Linked DNA regions of Homo sapiens: region 2 is linked to region 1. The links come from fine-mapping of genetic effects on plasma protein levels. Region 1 holds a variant in brackets. A gene starts in the other region. All regions are shown on their forward strands.

The links. A credible set is the group of variants that fine-mapping cannot tell apart. PIP is the posterior inclusion probability: the model's chance that the variant is causal. Protein levels are from antibody-based Olink assays in UK Biobank. Linkage for the fine-mapping came from a reference panel and not from the study's own genotypes, which makes the PIPs less certain.
Region 2: it holds the start of TNFSF11, and the variant in region 1 is the best candidate, but not a certain one, in a credible set for the plasma level of the TNFSF11 protein (UK Biobank, PIP 0.59).

The regions. Positions count from the first base shown.
Region 1 is chr20:40,512,295-40,515,203 of GRCh38, forward strand. No RefSeq gene overlaps it. Among named protein-coding and RNA genes, the nearest start is that of MAFB, 180 kb to the right of the region's middle. The variant G/A (reference allele first, on the strand shown) is at 1,582.
Region 2 is chr13:42,572,409-42,575,254 of GRCh38, forward strand. TNFSF11 (TNF superfamily member 11) reads left to right here and starts at 1,744. Exons shown (of 5, transcript NM_003701.4): 1 at 1,744-2,114. The coding sequence starts at 1,896. RefSeq lists a silencer at 1,682-2,051 and an enhancer at 2,142-2,341.

The sequences.
Region 1 (2,909 bases):
TCTCCTCCCCAACAGTGACCCTAGACTTGGACGTGTGACTTGTTTTGGCCAATGAGACATCTGCCCTGAGACTGCTTTGCCTATAGGAAGGTTAGGGTGACCCATGCCTTGGAGAGAGGCCCAGAAATCCCCAGCCATCCCAGCTGAATCCAGGTCCCAACTGAAGAGAACCATATGATGAACCCAGAGGAAACCGGCAGAAAACCCGCCCAGCCTAATAAGTTGCTGTCCTATGCCACTAAGTTTTGGGGCTGTATTGTGCACAGCGCAAATACCTGGTATGACTATTTAGTTTACAGCTGGTCCATCTTCTTACCCATTCATCTCTTCCTTTGCTAGTCACAGGACTTTTTCTTGTTCAACTAGACTCCTCAGATGGGAGAAATGTAGAGCCCGGAGGCTGGTTGGAAGAAATTATATGTTTATTATCTTAATTCGAATCAGCCACCACCCCAGGCCACCTCAAATAGACTCACAGATTACAGATGAACCTGCCCCTCAATGCAATTAGCACGCCCTTCTCAGGACAGCTGGCCACTTAGAGCCCTGTGGCTGCCATTAGAACCAAAATACAAGTGAATTCAAAGTGATTCCAGACACTCCATGAATACAGGCTACTTACTGGGAAGGAACACCAGTCTGAAAATCTGAAAGAGGAAAAGTGAAATGCATTCGAAAAAAAAAACTAACTACAGTTTTATTGTTCCACAACACATACTGTAACTCACACTAAACACTGAAATGTTACCACCAACTGGTCCCTGGGTGGCTCTGATGAGTGAAGTGGCTTGGTTTGCAATTGGCATATTAATTGTTTGAATGCAAACAAGTTCCTCTAAAGTATCTGAAGCTGTTCGGTGAAGAGTTGATTCTCTTAAACACTTCAATATTAATACTGCAAACATTTACCCTGTGGGTGGGAGCAATGACTCAGGGAAATAAATCTCACATCTTTGCCTTCAGCCAGGTCTTCCTCCAAGACTTCAGATCTATAGTAACCACGTGTTTATGGAAAGCAGCCCCTGGAATGGATTTAACAGTGATAGCTTGCGTGTGCCAATCGCTGTGCTAACCACTACTCATTTAATTCTCACCACCACTCTATGAGACAGGCATTGCTTGTCTCCCCACTTTACAGAGGAAGGAAAGGCAGCTCAGAGGGGTTAAGTGACTCGTTCAAGGTTATGAAGTTGTGTGACTCCAAGTTCCACACTGTGACTTCCCCCAGCCCCACTCTGCCTCCCCATCTTGCCTCCTGTGTTTCTTTTTTCAGTGCCTATGTCCATTGTAGGTCCATCCATAGGTCCAAGCCACACACCTTCCAAAAGACCTCTTGAAAATCTCTCAAACATGGCCACTCTCTGCACCCACTGTGCCATGATTGCCATCCCAGATAATCACAATGTCCCCTAACTGGTCTCTCTCCCTCCATGTTGTCTTCCTCCAATTCATTCTCTTAACCACAGCTGGAGTCTGTCTACCCCAAGCCTGAGCTCCGGAGCTTAAACCCCACACGGCAGAAGGAGCAGAATTTTCCAAAGATAGTCAGGAGGGTAGCTGGGTGCAATGTTGGAAAAATGG[G/A]GATGTGTAGGCAGGGACAGAAACCGAGGGAGGAAAGCAAGGTTCAGAAAGGAAGAGGTGTCTGTAGAGATCACTTTCCATATGCAGGAAAAGCACAAGAGAAAGTCGAGGTTAATCATCTCTCCAATCTTTGTTCCTTCTCTGCAATAATTTACCTCTGAGATTGGCCTGACTCTCTAATAAAGAACTTTGAAGTGTGCAGAAAAAATCCGCACACAAAAACCGTGGTGAAAAAGGCCCTGCAGAATCTGGACCCTACAGGCTAGAGGATTCCCAGCCAGATTCTTACACATACACCCTCCTTTAAAAACACCTCTATATCCATATAAAAGTCCCCAAATACCCCATGCTCTCTTCCACCTTGGGGCCTTTGCACAGGCAGTTTCCAGAATCCACAGTTCTCTTCTTTCTCATGAGTCCCTCTACTAGCCAATTCCTACTTATCTTTCAGACTCCCATTTATACATCAGTTCCTTCTAAAAATGTTGCCTGAGCCTCAGGTCCCAATTAGGTGCCCTCAAAAAATATCTTCCTTGCTAACTTCCCCTCATTAACTGTCATTTGTTATACTTGTTTCTATTGATGGTGATGCTAATAACTATTGATAAATGAATAAATGAGTGATGTGTTTGCAACCCCAGTTTGGACTTGCCCAATCTGTGAGCCTGGGTCAAAGCGGTGCTATGGGCCCCAGGGCATGCCATGTCAGAAACAGACAAACCTCTGTCTAGGGAAACATACTCTGCCTCAAAGTTGAGTAAGAACTTGTATCTAAAAAGAGGCCTTTGGCTTCTTGGGCTCAGCTGTGGAACATGCTTGGAACACAGCAGTGAAGGGAGACATGAAGACAGCATAGGAAGAGGCAGAAGTGAGGGAAATAAGGATTAACCAGGACCAGGGTTAACCAGAAGTAAGGGTTAACAAGGGAAGCCACTTCCATTTTCAGTGGGTGTTCAAGGCAGGCAGCCTTCGGTTCAAATTTTATGTTCTACTGGGTCGTGAGAACTATCCATTTTTTTGTTTGTTTTTTGTTTTTGTGTTTGTTTTTTGAGATGGAGTCTCACTCTGTCGCCCAGGCTGGAGTGCATTTGTGGGACCTCGGCTCACCGCAACCTCTGCCTTCCAGATTCAAGCAATTCTCCTGCCTCAGCCTCCCAAGTATCTAGGATTACAGGTGCCTGCCACCGTGCCTGGCTAATTTTTTGTATTTTTAATAGAGATGGGGTTTCACCATGTTAGCCAGGCTGGTCTCGAACTCCTGACCTCAGGTGATCTGCAGCCCTGGCCAAGGACTATTCATTGTTATTGGTAACCAGAGGCCTTCTTTC
Region 2 (2,846 bases), not on the chromosome of region 1:
TTGATCCCAATCAATATTTATAAGAAAGAAGAAATATGGAATTATTTCCTGAGTCAAGGAGCAGGGAGAGAATGAGGAAGAAGAGGAGGAGGAGGAGGGGGAGGAGGAGACAATAAACCTACTTCCCAAAGTTAACAAACAAAAAGTGGGAAGAGGTCAAAGACTACAAGGAGTAGAATTAACGTCAATTGTTTCTATGTTTGAGTCTGAAAATTTTTTGTCCCTTCTCCACCAACCTATATATTGATACACATATAAATGCTAAAGGCATTTTTGAATTTGAACAGATCATTTTCTTTGTATGGCTGCCTTTAAAAAAAATTCAACCTGGTCACTCTTCCTCAACATTTACTGAGGTCTAAGTGTTCAATTTAGAACACATGCTTTAATAACTCAGAGACCTGTCATTTGTCACAAATCTTGCCTAGAGAAATACTCATTAGCGAATTAGGCAGAAAGAGGATGCAAAATAAAAAGGCACAGTAGTCCCCTGATATCCATGGAAGACTGGTTCCAGGACACCACCAAACCCCTCCCCGCAAATACCAAAATCCATGGATGTTCAAGTTTCTTAACATATCATGGCATAGTATTTGCATTTAACCTACACACATCCTCTTGTACACTTGAAATTATCTTTAGATTATTTATAATACTTAATAGAATGTAAATGCTATGTAACTAGTTGTGTATCATTTAGGAAATGATCACAAGAAAAAAAGTCTACAGATGTTAGTCCAGACACAGCCATCCTTTTTTTTTTTTTCAAATATTTTTGATCTGTGGTTCATTGCATCCACAGATGTGGAACCCATGGATACTGTGGGCTAACTGTATTAATAAAAAAGTGGAAACATCCTAAGTTTCATGGGTGTTTAAATTGGTCAGCAACTTCCTTCTGAAGAAGTATCAGAATTTGTGAGCAATGTTAATATTTTTGTTTTCTCACTAAGAGCCACAGTTCTGAATAGAGGTTTTTAAAAAGCCCTAGCAAGGTTTCTTTAGCAATGAAACTAACATTTAACTGTATCATCAGCTTCGTGTTACATCTCTTTCCTGACTGTTGGGTGAGCCCTCCTCGGATGCTTGCTTCTGGCTACACGCCCCTTTACCCTTTTCTCTGCACTGTTTTCATCTTTATAAAGTCAGAGTTGGTGTCTATAGGCTCTCTACTGCCACATTCAAGACCTGCCTCGCTCAATGTCACCTTCAAGATGCAGAAATAGGGATTTGGGAAGGGGATTGTGAAATTTTCGAAGTCTTCCAAAATACTTTGAGAAACTATATTTGGAAGCACTTTGGGGGGAGAGGTTGGACAGGAAGGGTCTTCAGAGATCATCAAATTTAACTTTCTAAATCCTAAGGAGGAAACCGAGACTCCAGGATGTGAAGTCCCTTCTCTACCAAACTAGAATGGATGCAGGAGGAATGTCTGAGGTGCAATCCTTATCCTTTAGCAAAGGTGTCCTCTGCGTCTTCTTTAACCCATCTCTTGGACCTCCAGAAAGACAGCTGAGGATGGCAAGGGGAGTCTGGAACCACTGGAGTAGCCCCCAGCCTCCTCCTTGGAGGGCCCCCATGAAGGAGGCCCTTCAGTGACAGAGATTGAGAGAGAGGGAGGGCGAAAGGAAGGAAGGGGAGCCAGAGGTGGGAGTGGAAGAGGCAGCCTCGCCTGGGGCTGATTGGCTCCCGAGGCCAGGGCTCTCCAAGCGGTTTATAAGAGTTGGGGCTGCCGGGCGCCCTGCCCGCTCGCCCGCGCGCCCCAGGACCCAAAGCCGGGCTCCAAGTCGGCGCCCCACGTCGAGGCTCCGCCGCAGCCTCCGGAGTTGGCCGCAGACAAGAAGGGGAGGGAGCGGGAGAGGGAGGAGAGCTCCGAAGCGAGAGGGCCGAGCGCCATGCGCCGCGCCAGCAGAGACTACACCAAGTACCTGCGTGGCTCGGAGGAGATGGGCGGCGGCCCCGGAGCCCCGCACGAGGGCCCCCTGCACGCCCCGCCGCCGCCTGCGCCGCACCAGCCCCCTGCCGCCTCCCGCTCCATGTTCGTGGCCCTCCTGGGGCTGGGGCTGGGCCAGGTTGTCTGCAGCGTCGCCCTGTTCTTCTATTTCAGAGCGCAGGTGAGTGGCCACCTTCCCAGGGGATCGCGGCTGAGAGCGCCCATCTCCTTCCCCCGCACTTGGAAACTGAGTCTGGCGGCAGGGCTGGGCCACCCAGAGCTTGCATATTCCGGAAGGGAAAGTGACTCCAGAAGGGAGAGAGGAAGTGTTGAGTTTGGGGACAACCTGGCGCAGGGCTGTCGGGCGCACCCTGCTCTCTCTCCGCCCACGCACCCCAGCTTCTCGGTGCTCTGGGGGCGGACTCCCCTGGCCGGACGATGGGTTTGAATCTCACCCCGTCCCTTCGCTGGGAAACAACACTGGCCTCTCACCTTTTCTGGTAGTGATTGCATACTTTTTCTCCCTGTCATTTCTCACTTGAAGTTAAGAATCAACTTCTGTTCACGTAGGAAAAAAGATGAGCGCCTTCACTTGGGCATCTACCTTTCCCTTCCCGCCCACCACCCGGCGGGTTTCGGTTCCTGCGCCTGGCTGCTCTGCAGGTGTGCTGGGGCCACGGTGCTGGAGGGCTGCGCGGAGCGGGAGGTCGCGGTGCTCGTGCCCAGGTCGCCCAATGGGTGGGCAGAATGACACGGCGCGACCAGAGAGGCGCGGGCTCGGGATGGGGGCTCTGCGGCTGTGGCGCTGTCCTGTGGGGGTGAAGGAAGAGGGACAGCCCCACGTGCCTGCTAGGGATGTGGGCGGAGGAAGGAAGCGAGGTGAGTGTGATGGCACAGTGTTACTACAGTCTAG